Regions from separate parts of the Homo sapiens genome. Here region 2 is linked to region 1. A link means that fine-mapping ties the variant in region 1 to the expression of a gene that starts in the linked region. Tissue or cell type: nucleus accumbens. Region 1 holds a variant in brackets; the other region holds the start of a gene. All regions are shown on one strand. Distances are between the middles of the regions.

Region 1 (8,107 bases):
CATGGGCGCGCAGCCCCCGCCTCCCCAGCCCCCTAGTGTCTGGGCTGAGCTTCCTCCTCCCAGGAGTACCCCACACCCTCCTGGCTGTTCCTCCCTGCCTCCACCTCCGCCTGGAGCTCCAGGAACAATTACTGGGGGGCTGGGGGGTTGACGGGGACCCCCTCCCTCAAGATACAGCTCGGAACCAGCCGGGTGACAGGCAGGAACAATGCTGCCTGCTAATTGTCGCAATTTTCCCCTGTCATTTTTGCTAATTCCTTCATTTTCCCTCTCCCAGGATCAGCCTGGGTCAGACTGAACCGCTGCAATTAACAACATTAATGGGCACGTCGGGATTAGGGGGTGTGGTGGTGGGGGGGCTTGGGGACCTGCTCTTCCCCATACACGGGTCCGGTCCCCTGTGAAAGGGACCCCCAGAGTCTCCTGATCACTGACTGATGTGTCTTTTTACCCCCAGCCTCCACCTCCCGATCCCACCAACTCCCCGATGCCTCCCGCTGTTTCCTCCTCTCCCTCTCCCCTCAAAATGTCCCCACTCCTCTGTCCCCCACATTCAGCAGGAGACTTTTCACCACTTCCACATCCGCCCTCCCATGTCCAGAACCCAAACATCACTCATCCATTTAACAAACACTTGCTGTGGTTCTTATCACAGCCTGCTCAGTGTCCTCATCTCTTGCGCAGAGAGGGAGCACGAGGAGCAGAGAGACGGGAGACCAGGGGCAGAGAGAAGGGGACCAGGGGCAGACAGACAGGAGACCAGGGGCAGAGAGAAGGGAGACCAGGGGCAGACAGACGGGAGACCAGGGGCAGAGAGACGGGAGACCAGGGGCAGAGAGACGGGAGACCAGGGGCAGAGAGAAGGGAGACCAGGGGCAGACAGACAGGAGACCAGGGGCAGAGAGAAGGGAGAACAGGGGCAGAGAGATGGGAGACCAGGGGCAGAGAGACGGGAGACCAGGGGCAGAGAGACGGGAGACCAGGGGCAGAGAGAAGGGAGACCAGGCGCAGAGAGAGGGGGACCCAGGGGGCAGAGAGAGGGGGAAACCGGGTGCAGAGTGTGGGGGGACCTGGGGCAGAGAGAGGGGGGACCTGGGGCAGAGAGAGGGGGATCCAGGGGCAGAAGGCAGAAGCCAAGGCCTCTTCCAAGTTCCCAGATCTCCCCCGTCACCTGCCCTTCTCAACTGCCCTGAAGGAATGTGCTGACCCTGGGTCCTGGAGAGAAGAGGCTGGGGCTTCATCACCCAGGGAAGTCGGGGAGAGGGGTCCCTCACATGCCCCATCGTCAAAGCGCCGCAGGCCTGAGGGCTGCATGGGGGCAAGCACCATGGGGTGGGGCAGTGCCGGGTCACCTTTGCCTTTACTTTCCTCAGCCTCATCTGTAAAATGGGTCTACAGTGATAGAGTTGAATGGGCTAGTGCATACAGTAGGTGCCTAATACTGGGAGTCATGCCACCATTCTCTCTCTCTCTTTTTTTTTTTTTTGAGACGGCATCTAGCACTGACACCCAGGCTAGAGTGCAGTGGCAGGATCTCAGCTCACCGCAACCTCTGCCTCCTGGTTCACGTGATTTTCCTGCCTCATCCTCCCAAGTAGCTGGGAGTACAGGCACCACCACCATGCCCGGCTAATTTTTGTATTTTTAGTTGAGACGGGGTTTCACCATATTGGTCAGGCTTGTCTTGAACTCCTGACCTCAGGTGATCCACCTGCCTCGGCCTCACAAAGTGCTGGGATTACAGGTGTGAGCCACCGCCCCGGCCGCACTTTTCTTTTCAGTATGACTACAGATAACATCAGGGCACCACTGCCTTTTCGGGCGGTTTCTTGGAGGCCGCCCTCTGTGTCTCTCACACCCACATGCATTTTAAGCAAGTCCCAGGGGTTGGACCTGACCATGTCACCTGTGTTCCACCACCCATGGCCCCAGCCCAGTCTAGCTGCCCTGGCTGGACCACCACGTCCTCATCCTCACTGGGCTCCTACTTCCGCCCTCACCACCTCTGTGGCTCCCCTCTCACTGTGGGTAACAGCCAAACCCCTACCACAGTGCATGAGGCTCTGCACCCAGCAAGCTGATCCCCACCTGCCTCAGGGCCTTTGCACCTGCTGTTCCCTCTGCTGAGTCACTCTCTTCCAGCTTTTCTCACAGCTGCTCCCACACCTCCTTGGAGCCTCAGCTCAAAGATCACTTCCTTGGCTGGGCCCAGTGGCTTACACCTGTAACCCCAGCACTTTGGGAGGCTGAGGTGGATGGATCACCTGAGGTCAGGAGTTCAAGACCAGCCTGGCCAACGTGGCGAAACCCTGTCTCTACTAAAAATACAAAAATTAGCTGGGCATGGTGGCGTGTGCTTGTAACCCAGCTACTTGGGAGGCTGAGGCAGGAGAATCGCTTGAACCTGGGAAGTGGAGGTTGCAGTGAGCTGAGATCGCACCACTGCACTCCAGCCTGGGTGACAGAGCAAGACTCTGTCTCAAAAAAAACAAAAAACAAAAACAAAAAAACGTTACTTCCTCAGCGAGGATGTGCCTGACCTATGAGCTAAGAAGTCACCCCTTGGCTGGGCACAGTGGCTCATACCTGTAATCCCAACACTTTGGGAGGCCAAGGTTGGCAAATCACTTGATCCCAGGAATGTGAGAGCAGCCTGGGCAACATGGTGAGACCTCGTCTCTTAAAAAATGCAAAAAGTAGCTAGGCGTGGTGGCGTGTGCCTGTAGTCCTGGCTACTTGGAAGGCTGAAGTGAGAGGAACTCTTGAGCCTAGTAGGTGGAGGCTGCAGTGAGCCAAGATCGCACCACTGCATTCCAGCCTGGGCGACAGAGCAAGACCCTGTTTCAAAAAAATTTAAAAAGGGCTGGGTGCGGTGGCTCACACCTGTAATCCCAGCACTTTGGGAGGCTGCGGCAGGCGGATCACCTGAGGTCAGGAGTTTGAGACCAGCCTGACCAACATGGAGAAACCCCATCTCTACTAAAAATACAAAATTAGCTGGGCGTGGTGGCGCATGCCTGTAATCCCAGCTATTAGGGAGGCTGAAGCAGGAGAATCGCTTGAACCCAGGAGAAGGAGGTTGCAGTGAGCCGAGATCATGCCATTGCACTCCAGCCTGGGCAACAAGAGCAAAACTCCGTCTATAAATAAATAAATAAAGATGTCACCCCTCCTTCCCTCAACTGCCACAGTCACTCAACAATTTAGTAAGCCTTCATTGTGTCCCAGATGCTACTCCAGGCTCAGCAACCAAGAGGCTGTTGGTGAATGACACAAAATAACAAGATAAATACAGAGAGTGTCAGATGACAATAAGTGCTATGGGAAGAAAGAAGGCTGTAAAAGCCGGGCACGGCGCCTCACGCCTGCAATCCCAGCACTTTGGGAGGATAAGGAGGTCAGGAGTTCGAGACCAGCCTGGCCAACATGG[T/A]GAAACCCCATCTCTACTAAAAATACAAAAAATTAGCCAGGCGCGGTGGCAGGCGCCTGTAATCCCAGCTACTCGGGAGGCTGAGTCAGGAGAATTGCTTGAACCCAGGAGGCGGAGATTGCAGTGAGCAGAGATTGCAACACTGCACTCCAGCCTGGGCAACAAGAGCAAAACTGCGTTTCAAAAAAAAAAAAAAAAAGCAATAGGGAATGCTGACATGAGATTTGGGCGGTCTCCTCTCCAGACTCAGAGGCTCAGGGCTAGACTTGAACATCTGTTGTCCCATTTCACAGATGGAGGACTGAGGCCCAGAGAGGCAGAGACCTAGAACCCATCCCTGTAGACCTACAGACCACATATGATGGTTGAGAGGCGGCCTTTGGGGCAAGGTCATCTGTGTTTGAATCCCAGCTGTGCGACCTTGGGCACACACTTCTGTAACTTGGGAATCATAATAGTGCCTCCCTCTGAAAAAGAAAGTCATTTTATCTTTTGTTGTTGTTGTTGTTTTTCCTTTTTCTGGAGAACGGGGTCTCGCTATATTGCCGAGGCAGGTCTCGAACTCCTGGGCTCAAGCTATCCTCCCGCCTCTTGCCTCCCTGAGAGCTGAGATTACAGGCGTGAGCCACCGCACCCGGCCAAGAAAGTCATTTTGTATACAGGGCTTATCCCAGGGTCTGATGCATGCATTCTATATGATTACTATTATTGTTATTATTTTAGATACTGAGTCTTGCTCTGTTGCCCAGGCTGGAGTGTAGTGGCATGATCATGGCTCACTGCAGCCTCGACCTCCTCAGCTCAAGCAGTCCTCCCACCTCATCCTGTTCAGTATCAGGGACTACAGGCGGGTGCCACCAAACCTGGCTAATTTATTTATTTATTTTTATTTTTATATATTTTTTGAGATGGAGTCTTGCTCTGTCACTAGTCTGGAGTGCAGTGGTGTGATCTCGGCTCACTGCAATCTCCGCCTCCTGGGTTCAAGTGATTCCCCTGCCTTAGCCTCCGGAGTAGCTGGGACTACAGGCACACACCACCACGCCCGGCTAATTTTTTGTATTTTAGTAGAGATGGGATTTTACCATGTTGGCCAGGATGGTCTCGAACTCCTGACCTCGTGATCTGCCCGCCTTGGCCTCCCAAAGTGCTGGGATTACAGGTGTGAGCCACCGTGCCCAGCCAATATTTTTATTTTTGTAGGGACATGGTTTTGTTATATTGCCCAGGGTTTTGCTATGTTGCCCTGGCTGGTCTCGAACTCCTGGCCCAAAGCTTTCCTCCCACCTTGGCGCCCCAAAGTGCTGGGATTACGGATGTGAGCCATGGTGCCCGGCTTATTACTGAGGAGGGCATGGGAGTCCCCTCCCCTTCAGAGAGTGTGACTGACAGTGCTCTGCTCTGTGGCTTCAGCTAAAATGCTGTCCTCAGCTCCTCCTCTGAACTATGGAAGCAGGTGCTTCGCCTCTTGTTAGGGACCCTGTAGAGCTAGAAATGCCTCTGTCCCCCGATTTCCCAGTTTTGGGACTATAGGAGTCCACGCAGTACCAAGCCCCCCCACACTGTCCTGACCCTACTTCCACTTGGCACCGTGGTCGAGGTGGGATCGATTAAGTCCATGCTCTGCCACGTCAGTGCTGTGACCTCAGCCAGCCCCTGATGCCTCTGAGCCCCGGAATGCTCATCCAGGTAATGGGGGGCTGGACGCCGCCGGGGCTCTCTTAGCCCCCCCTTTCCCCCCCTTCAGCTCGGGGACAATAGACAAGATGTTTATCCCCCGCCGGCGCACATGTTGTTCGCGGTAATGACAGTAATCAGCGGCGCTAATGCCGCATTCTCTCCGCGCCAGTCAATTCGCCTAATTACCGCCTGGGAAGCCGGATTATTTAAATTTAAATGGTGATTTATTGCGAGCTTAATCAATGCTATTTTCTCTCCCCCCTCTTCCCCTGGGACGGGGCAGGAGGGGAATTGGAGCCCCTCCAACCCCACCCTAAGGACACCCTCTTCTCCTGGAGGGGTGGGGACAGGGGTAGCCTGGGGTGCCCTGAGACTTCAGATAAACACCACTCACACTGCCTTATCCTCATCACCGCAAAGCTGTAACAAACACATAAAATAGAAGTAATAATAACATAACAGCACTTCTATGTCTCAATAATAAAGTCTGAGTAATAATAATAAACTTAGATATTTATCTGTATCTTACAGAGTTTATATTTTTACATATTCTAGATTATATTGCTTTGCCTATTTCTTTATTGCGTCTTGGCCACTAGGATGCCAGCCGCTCCGGGGCAGGGACTTTTGTCTAGATTGTTTCTCCTGCTCAATCCCAGCGCTCAGAAAAGTGCCAGACAGGCAGGAGATGCTCCAAAAGCGACAGCCCCCCCGCCCCCTCCTCCATGCCCCGAACCCCTCCAGCAGCCCTGCAAGGTTACTGCTGATAACAGCATTGGCCGCATAGCGGTGGCTTGCTCTGAGCTAGGCACTTCCAGGGACTTTGCAAATATGACCTGGTTGATTCTCTGCTCAGCCCCCTGGGGGAGGTTGGACCGTTTTTTCCCACTTCACATTAAGGCACAGAGAAGTGAGGCGACCTGCCCGGGGTTGCAAAGCTGGGAGGTGGCTGCGCGGCGACAGGAACCCTGGGGCATCTTCCTGAAGTTCCCCATCTCATCCGCCACATCATACTGTCTCCCTCTTGCTCCTCCAACTGGGGGCTCAGACTGTACAGTCCTTGCGTTCCCGCCGGGGCCCCTCAGGTCTGGATCCAGGGTATCTCGCCCATTAGCGAATGGGCGTCCCAAGCCAGGGTGAGTCCCCTCTGTCCCGCTCATGCAGCTGGGAGTTTCTTTGGTTGTAATAATGATTCCTCTCCTCTAATAAAAATATAGGAATAGCATTTACCAGTGACCACTAGAACTGCCAGGGCCTTGTTTAGGGCAGAATTCACGAAATCTTCCCAACCTCTTGCGCCCATTTGACAGTTTAATAAACTGAGGCTTGGAGAGCAGAAGCCACCTGATAGGGACACGCAAAGGTCCTGGCTGACTCCAGAGACAAGCATCTGGGCGAGGGCAGGCCCGCAGCCCGGATCTGGGCTGCAGTGACTCCGCCTGGAGGGCCCCGGGACCCTCGCCCCGCGCATGAGCACTCACCGAGGCCAGCTGGCGGCCCCGCGGCTCTCAGCCCCCAGGGCGGCGCCCCCAGCGCGGCGAACCGGCGCAGGCGGAGGTAGGTGACGCTGAGGCGCACGATGGAAGCCTTGTCCAGCTGGCTGGAGATGGCGCCGGGCAGCGGGAGAAGCTTGGCCAGCTCGAAGAACTCCAGGTTCTCCTTCCCGCGCCGCGAGCGCGCCGCGTTCCGGGACTTCTCCTTGCGCTGCGCCTGCAGGCTGGGCGGGCGGCGCGGAGGAGGTGTCGGCGGGGCCCCGGGGCTCAGGGGCTTGGGAACTGGGGGCGAGCCCCGCCTCCCGGGGCCTTGGGAACGGGACGGGACGTTGGGAGTGGATTCCACATCTCTGGAGGTGGGAGCAGACCGGAGTGTGGATTTTACACTCCGACCCAGGGACAGAACCTCGAGTGTCAATTCTGGTGGGAAGGAGGAGGAAGGGCGAGAGATTAAAGATGTTGGGCGTGAATTCTGAGGACCGGGACTAGAAGCAGAACGCAGGGGACCGGGCTCAGGACGGTAGTTAACTCAAGGTAAGACCTTCTAGCCCTAAGGGGCGGGTCAGGGAGCTGGGTGTGAACTGCCCCTTGGCACGGGGACAGAACATCGGGTGTGAATTGGACCCGGGGGGGGGCCCGCGGCCAGGGGGGCGGGGCTTTGCTCACCACGGTCCGGACGGCGCCTTGACCATCAGCCCGGGTAGAAAGTCCCAGGGGACGCTGGCGCCGCGGCCTCCCACGCATTTGACCTCGCTTCCGCCGCCACTGCCGGGATAGGGGGCCGCCATCTCCGGGGGGCTCGCTCAGGCGGGCTCCGAGCCCCGAGTCTCCTGCAGCGGGAGGGGGCCAGGGGCAACGCTTAGTGCCCTCGGGAGACCTTCTAGGGAAACTGAGATCCGTGCAGGGCTCAGGGTCCCAGCAAGGAGCTGGGGGGGGGGGGGCCTGGATGATGCCTCAGTTTCCCCTACCTGGAGGCCTCAGCTCCCACCCTAGCCGGCCCGGGGCTGGCGCTCCGGGTGAGGACGTGCCCCGCCGCCGCCTCCCCCGCGCCGCCCGCCAGCGCGCCCGCCTCACGCCCGCGCCGGGCCGGCTCCCGCATACCAATGGGCGCACGCGGCGCGCATACGGATCGAACCGGCCCGCGCGCTGCGTGCCAAGCATGCCCAAGCCGGGCGGGGGGCGGGCGCCTCCCGGGCCAGGCACGCACGCCCCAGCCCCCGGAGCCCTCTGCCCCGAGGACCCGCCCCCCAAGCCCATCCCCGGTGTCTGACTCCCCGGATCTGCACCCTGTTTTCCCGGCTGGGCTAAGGAGGCAGGGGGCAGAGGGCAGGGACCCCCATCCTGTGTCCTGCCCAGGGATCCCCCCAGCCTCTCGGGATGGCGCCACGTGTTCGGACCGCCACATCCCCACGACCACAACTTCCTCCCTGAAGACCCCGGCGCGCGAGCCCCAGCCCCGGACGCAGCCGCCGCAGCCTCTGCCCCAGGACGCCCCCAGGATTGA
Region 2 (8,107 bases), 880 kb after region 1:
ACTCTTACCACTCTATTCAAGATAGCATTGGCGGTTCAAGCCATGAAAGTTAGGCAAGAAGATAAAATGAATTTAGACTGAGAAAGATAAAGTAAAATGATTTCTATTTGCAAATGACATGATTTTGTATGTTAAAAATCCTAAGGACTAGGCACAGTGGCTCACTCCTGTAATCCCAGCATTTTGGGAGACCAAGTGGGGAGGATCACTTGAGGTCAGAAGTTTGAAACCAGCTTGGTCAACATAGCGAGACCCCATCTGTATAAAAATAAAAACATAAAAAAATTAGCCAGGGATGGTGGCACATGCCTGTAGTTCTAGCTGCTCAGGAAGCTGAGGCAGGAGGATTACTTGAGCCCAGGAGTTCGAAGCTGCATTGAGCTATGATCACACCACTGCACGCCACCCTGCATGATAGAGTGAGATTCTGTCTCAAAAAAGAAAAAGAAAAAAAAAAAAAAACCTAAGGAAGCTACTATGACCTAAAGACTAATAGAAAAATTCAACAGGATTGTAAGATAAAAGAGATCAACATATAAAAAGCAATTGTATACACTAGTAAAAAACCATCTAAATATGAAATTAGGAATATAATTCCACGTACCAAAGAGAATAAAATACTTATGAATAAATTGAACAGAAGAGGTGCAAGATTTGTGCATTAAAAACAACAAAACATTGTTGAAAAGAATTAAGAATATGTAAATAAATGGAAATACATCCATGTTCGCAAATTGGAAGACTTAATATTGTTCAGGTGCCAAAAATCCCAAATTGATCTATAGAATCAATGCAATCCATATCAAAGAACTTTTGTGAGATCAAGTGTCACTCTGTCACCCAGGCTGGAGTGCAGTGGCGTGATCATGACTCACTGCAACCTCCGCCTCACAGGCTTAAGTGATCCTCCCACCTCAGCCTCCCAAGTAGCTGGGACTACAGACGCACACCGCATGCCTGGCTAATTTTTTGCATTTTTTGGTAGAGATGTGGTCTCACCATATGGCCCAGGCTGGTCTCTTAACGCCTGAGATCAAGCCATCCACCTTCCTTGGCCTCCAAAAGTGCTGGGATTACAGGCATGAGCCACAGGACCCAGCCTTCTCTGAAGAAATTAATCAGTTGATCCTAAAACTCATATTGAAACATAAAGGACCGAGAATAACTAAAACGATCTTGAAAAAGAACAAAATTGTAGAATTGATACTTCATGATTTCAAAGCTTACCACAAAGCTATAGTGACAGTGTAGGAGCTGACACACAGGATAGACATATAGATCAATGAATAAAACTAACAGTCAGAAAATAAACCCTTAGATTTGTTGAAATCAAATTTCAACAAAAGTGCTAGGACTATGAAGTAAGGGAACAAATGATTTTTCAACAAATGGTGCTGGGAAAACTGTATATTCATACACAAAAGAGTGGGCAGAAAGAGGATCTCTTCCTCATACCATACACAAGGATTAACTCAAAATGTATCACAGACCTAAATACAAGAGCGAACATATAAAACTCTTAGCAGAAATGTAAAATAAGCAACCCACAGAAAGACAAATACCACACCATCTCACTTGTATGTAGAATCTAAAAGAGTTGAACTCATAGAAGTAGAGAGAAGGGCAGTTACCAGAGGATTGGTGTGGGCAGATGGGCAACAGGGAGATAAGCAAATGATATGAAGTTACAGTTAGACAGGAAAGATAGGTTTTAGAGATCCACTGCAGGGCACGGTGACTATAATAAATAATAGTGTATTGTGGGCTGGACGTGATGGCTCATACCTGCAATCCCAGCACTTTGGGAGGCCAAGGAGGAGGGTTGCTTGAGCCTACAAGTTGGAGACCGGCCTGGGCAACACAGTGAGACATCGTCTCTATGAAAAACAAAATTAGCATGGTGTGGTGGTGCGTGCCTGTGGTCTCAGCTACTTGGGAGCTGAGGTGGAAGGATCACTTGAGCCTCAGAGGTAGAGGGTGCAGTGAGCTGTGATCACACCACTGCACTCCAGACTGGGCATCAGAGTGAGACCCTGCCTCTTAAAAAAACAAATGGTGTGTTGTATATTTCAAAATTGCTGAAGAGTATATTTTAAATGTTCTAGTGACAAAAAGTAATAAGTATATTAGGTGGTAGATATGGTAATTAATTTGATTTATCATTTAACAAGGCAAACATACATTAAATCATCATATTTTACCCCATAAATATACACAATTATTCTTTGTCAACTTCTTAAAAAGATTCCTAGCAGAAAACATACAAGTAAGTCTTAATGACCTCGAGTTAGGTAATATTTTCTTAGATATTACACCAAAAGCACAAGAGAGAAAAGAAAGAATAGACTTCATCAAAAATTAAAAACCTATGCACTGCAAGCAATAGCATCAAGGAAATGAACACAATCCACATAATGAGGAAAGTATTTGCAAATTATATATATGATAAGGGATGAGTATCCAGCATATCTTCTAAAACTCTTACAACTAAATAATAATAAAATAAATAACCCAATTTAAACATGGAAAAATCTGAATAAACCTTTTCTCAAAAAGGAATACAAATGGCCAATAAGCACATGGAAAAGACACTCAGCATTGTTATTTACCAAGGAAACGCAAATTAAAACTACACAGGATATCACACCCACCCACCCAGATGACTGTAATAAACAGGAAAATAGAAAATAACAAAGGTTGAAGAATCTGGAGAGAAATGTGAGCCCTCATACACTGCTGGTGGGAATGTAATTGATGCAGCTCTGTGGAAAACAGTTTGCCAATTCCTCAAAAAGTTAAACAGAATTACCATGTGGCGTAGCAATTCCACTCCTATGTGTACACCCAAGATAACTGAAAACAGGTTCTCAAGCAAATACATGTATACATATGTTTGTAACAGCACTATTCACAATAGCCAAATGGTGGAAACAGCCCAAGTGTCCATCAACAGATGAATGGATAAATGAATGCTGATACATGGATACAATTGAATTTATTCAGTTGTAAAAAGGAATGAAGTACTAATAAATTCTATAATGGGGATATGCCTTGAAAACATTAAGTTAAAAAAAAAGTTACACGAAAGGTCACTTATAAATGGTGTGATTCCATTTATATGAAATGTCCCAGATAGGTAAATCCATAGAGACAGAAAGCTGACTGGTGGTTGCCAAGGGTGAGGGTAGAGGGGAAAGAGAGGAACAGCTAAATGGGCATGCGGTGGTCGGGGGCTATGGAGCCAGGTGACTCGGAGGTAAAAAGCAATTCTGGAAGATGACTGAGCTACTCTTCCTTCAACTTGAGAGAGGAAGGAAGAGAAGGAAGGAGAGGAGGGAAAAGACAGGGAGGGGAGAGGGGAAGAGAAGAGAGGGGGATGTGAGACAGAGGGACACAGGGAGATGGGGAGGGGAGGGGGAGGGGGAGAGGGGAAGAGGGGGAGAGGTGGAAAGGGTGAGGGGTGAGTGGGAAAGAGAAAGAGAGAGAGAGAGAAAAGGGAGAGAGAGAAAAGAGAGGGAGAGAGAAAGAGAGGGAGAGAGAAAGAGAGAGAGAAGAGAGAGAGAGAGAAGAGAGAGAGGGAGAGAGAGAGATGGTTGCCCAAAAAGAAGTTAGTGAACACAGCAGGCATTGCTCATCTTGATGGAATACACACAACAAAACTCAGTCCACTGCCTGGGCTGCCCTTACTTACCCAGCACACTCCTGGGGTAGTCGGTCCTCATGCCTGAGACACTGAACCTCATGATTTCCTGGCGCTGAGAGCCCAGGAACTCCAGGCAATAGTGCCTGGGCTACAGGGCTGGGTCTGGTTCGAGGGCAGGATGATCCCCTCATCACAGTCCCAACAGATTGCAGATCTAGTCTCCACTCCTGAGTGTCAACTGGCACAACCACAGTCCAATATCTGGAAGAGTCAGAGCTGATGAGCTGGCAGGGGACCTCTGGGAGCCCCCAACCCTATCCACAGTGCTATAATCCTCCCTCCTTTCTTCTCCCTCCACTCACCACACCCATTCTCACCTATGGTCCCTTCTGAGTCTGAGCCCAGGAGTTCAAAAATAAAGATCAGCTGAGAGAAGAATGACAGTGATTCTGGGGTCACCAGATCATGATCATGGGGCACAAGATGATGTCTCTGAGTTTCTTTGGTTGCTGTAACAGCTCAGAGCAGATTTTGGGACTGACTCTGTGTGCAGGTTCTGGGCATTGGGCTTGGCAGGTGAGGAAATGCAGGGAGGGCTCTGGAAAGGGTTAAGCTTCTGGAATTTGCAGGTGGGGAAGAGAGATTGCAATGCAGTCAGAGAGGACACGGGTGATTATGAGGTGGGAAACCAAGAATTAAATAGGGAAGAGAGAATTAAGTTTGAGGTTCAGAGGTACATTAGGGATAACAGTAGGCATTAGCTCAACCTGGGGCAAGGGTTACCTTACCGAAGATTCTGGGCACCATGGAGCTTCAGAGCAGCTGATGGGACAGCAGCAGTGCAAATGGGTCAGTGACTTTATACAGGGACTTATGTAGGCTATGAACTTATCCACATTTAGGGAGGTGCCCAGAAGCACTGGCCTCTTGGAAAGGGTGGGGCATGAGAAGCCACAGAAAGCATAAGAAAAAACTGCATCAACAGCTTAGTAAGATGTTCCTGGACCTGTTCCAAGTGACTGCTACCTTCTCAGACCTCTCGAAATCTCAGAGTAAAGGCTTCCCTAGAACCTTTCAAAGCCGTGAGTGAGTGTCATTCTTTGAACTCTGCCCACGGCAAAGAGACTTGAAAGAGATTCCTTGGCTCTCACTTATCTGAGAGCATACTACTCACCAAACATCACAGCTGGTGATGAAACTTCATATTCATCCACCCTGAAGTTTCAAGGGGTCCCTCTACTCCCCATCTCAGTCCGGCTCCAGACCTGCACTATGAGAAACAAACGCACCCGTCCAAACCCAAAGAATGGACTCAGAGACACAGAAAACAGTGGAAGCAAGACTTTTAATGATGGTCTTGCAAGATTGAATGTCTGGTAGGCAGGCACACCCAGTACGGTTACAACAAGCTATTTATCCCCTAGTGCACAAGTCTCTCCCCTGGTTCCTCGTAGGCTAAGTACGATGGGGTCACGATCTTCCCAGACGTCGCCTATTGGTTGCTGGGTTGAGGCTTTTAGGTGTTTTCTTTAGGATTGTCTCACTGCATTTTGTTGCAGCCTATAATACATTGCAATCAAAGCCAGCTCGAGGGCTTTTCAAGTATTTGACTTATGACCTAGGCAGTCAGGCAAGCTGATAAGAATAGATAAAGTGAGCTATTTTGCTGGCTAGTAAACTTTCATTCTAGACTAAACTCTGGTTTGGGAGAGGGTAACTAAGGGGACCCCGACAAGCATGCACCAGCTATGGGCCTAGTATATTCTGTCCTTCCATAGTTTGTGGGCCTCAGCCTATCTGAGGTACTTTGTCTTGGAAATGGACCACCATATCCATTATTATAATTGTAGACAGCACTGTCTATAATTCTTCAGAGTCATTTAGGGGAAACTGTGAAGATGCAGCATAATCTAGAAAAAGAGCAGGGGCTGTAAAAACCCTGCCAGGGAGAACAGAAAAGGAACAGACAGTGATAAAATAGACATCTGGGATTCATAGAATAGATGGAAAGGCAGCCCCTTTTTGTTGTTGTTTCTGGAGTGCTTTGTCCAAGGAAACGCTCCTTCTGTGTTTCTTACTGTTATTTTATTGTCACCATCACTATTATTTGTGTCACTGGATACCATGTGGGCTATTATTAGAATGCGCTCCTGTGTTTTCCATTGACTTCCTTCCCATCCCACAGTGAGATAGGTGGGAGGGTGAGACAGAGATCAGGAGAGGTGTTAGGGCTTTATAAAAGTGCATTGTTAGTAGAAGAGTTCTGGACCTGATAAGTGAATTTAGAAAGGTTGTAGCGTATGAAACACACAGAAGTCAATTGTATTCCTTTATACTGGCAAGAACTAGTGGATACAATAATTTAAAGAAAAAAAATGCCATTTACAATACCCCCCTCCCCAAAAACTGAACTGGTATACTGTAAATCTAGGAGAACATATAAAGGATGTGTACGATTAAAGTATTCAAGGAAACCTTAAATACAGAGTGGTATATCATGTCGTGGTTTGGAATCTGTAATTTAGGTAAGATGCCAATTCTTTCCAAATTATCTACAGATTTAACACAATTCCAATCAAACCCAAGCAGGATTTGTCTGAGAGAGAAACAAAATAACTCTAGAATTTATATAGAAAAGCAATGGAAACTAGAATGGCCAACACAATTTTGGATGAGGAAAGATGGTAGAGGACTCACACTATCCAATTTCACAATTACTCAAGCTACAGTAATGACAACAGTGTAGTATTGGCAAATGGATAGACATGGATAGACACATAGATCAAAGGAACAGAATAGGTTCCAGAAATAAACCCAAACAAATATAGTAAATTGTCTTTTGGCAAAGATGTAAAGGCAATTCAATGGGGGAAAAGATAGTCATTTCAACAAATGGTGTGAGACAATGGGCATGCATATGAAAAAAAAAAAGAAGACTTCTACCAAAGCTCACACTCTATACAAAAGTTAACTCCAAATGGTCTAGATATGAAAAGTAAAACTACGTATTTCAAGGAGAAGGCATCAGAGAAAACATTTATATCTGGGAAAAGACATCAAAAGCATTATCCATTTTTTAAAAACAGATTGGACTTATCAAAATTTTAAAGTTAAACTTGATGAACAAATTGTTAAGTGAAGCAACAGACAGGCTACCAACTGCAGAAAGTGTCTGTGAATCACATCTCTAACATAGGACTTGAATCCAGAGTATATGAAAAACTCTCAAAACTCAAAGTGAAACAACAAACAAAATCATTAAGCATCGGCAAAATATCTGAACAGATGCTTTACAAAAGAGGACATACAGATAGCAAATAAGCACATGAAAAGTTGTTCAACACCATTAGCCATACTGGAACTACAAATTAAAACCAGTGAGATACTATCTCCCATCTACTAGAATTGGCAAAATTTAAATATATATATTAAATAAATAAATAAATAAATACACACACACACACACACACACACACACACACACATATATATGAGTGTGTCCTTAATTCTCTACCAGTGAGGGAAGCTGGAAGCAAGATGGGAAGGTGGAGAGAAGAAACCCTGAAAGGAACTAAGAGTTACTGGAAGGAGGGCTTTAATCTGGTGAGTGGGTCACTCACTGGTAGGTAAGTCACGTGTGGAAACCTGTTTGGGGTGTTGCAAGGATTGACTGTGTTGGACTGGACGAGGGAGGGCCACTGGGGGTGTAAGTGAAAAAGTGCCGGAGTATGTGTATTTAGATATTATGAAATTATACACAAACATATATGAAAGAGAGAGAGAGAGAATATCGACAATACCAAGTGCTAACAAGCAAGTAAAGACACTGAATTTCTCATATTTTACTGATGGAAATGAAAATGGTATATATATATAACCCCGAAAAACATTTTGGCTGTTTTTATAAAATTATACATTTACCATACAACCCATCATTCACACTCCTGTGTATTTATCCCAGAGAAATGAAACTTATGTTCCCACCAAAAAAGCACAATCGTTCATAGTATTTTACTTGTAATAGCAAAAAAGTGGAAACAACTCAAATATCTATCAACAGGGGAAATGGGAGACACACCGTGGTACACACACACAATGGAAACTTTTGAGCAATAAAAAGACAAGGAACTATTTACATACACCATGACTTGGCAAGATCTCAAAGGCACCGTGTCAGATACAAGAAGTTGGTCTCAACAATTACATAGGTAAGAATCAACTTAGCCTTTCCTGTGACACTCAGGAAAGGCAAAACTATAGGAAAGAGTGAATGCCAGGGGTTGGGGTTGGGTTTGGGGTGATGGAACTGTTCTGTAACCTGATTTTGATCGTGACTACATGAATCTATACCTGTGTTTAAATCCATTAAGTTGTGCATAGAAAACAGTCAACTTACTGTATGTTTTTAAATAAAATAAAATCAGGGTGTGGAAACTGACCTTTGTATTCACTTATTTATTCAGA

The links. PIP is the estimated chance that this variant, and not a neighbour inherited with it, causes the effect. A credible set is the group of variants that fine-mapping cannot tell apart.
Region 2: it holds the start of IGFL2, and the variant in region 1 is the best candidate, but not a certain one, in a credible set for the expression of IGFL2 in nucleus accumbens (GTEx, PIP 0.83).

What each region holds. Positions count from the first base shown.
Region 1 is chr19:47,020,332-47,028,438 of GRCh38, reverse strand. NPAS1 (neuronal PAS domain protein 1) reads right to left here. Exons shown (of 12, transcript NM_002517.4): 2 at 7,270-7,433; 3 at 6,592-6,827. The coding sequence starts at 7,391. Among named protein-coding and RNA genes, the nearest start is that of NPAS1, 4.5 kb to the right of the region's middle. The variant T/A (reference allele first, on the strand shown) is at 3,431.
Region 2 is chr19:46,144,622-46,152,728 of GRCh38, reverse strand. IGFL2 (IGF like family member 2) reads right to left here and starts at 4,491. Exons shown (of 4, transcript NM_001135113.2): 1 at 4,432-4,491. The coding sequence starts at 4,450.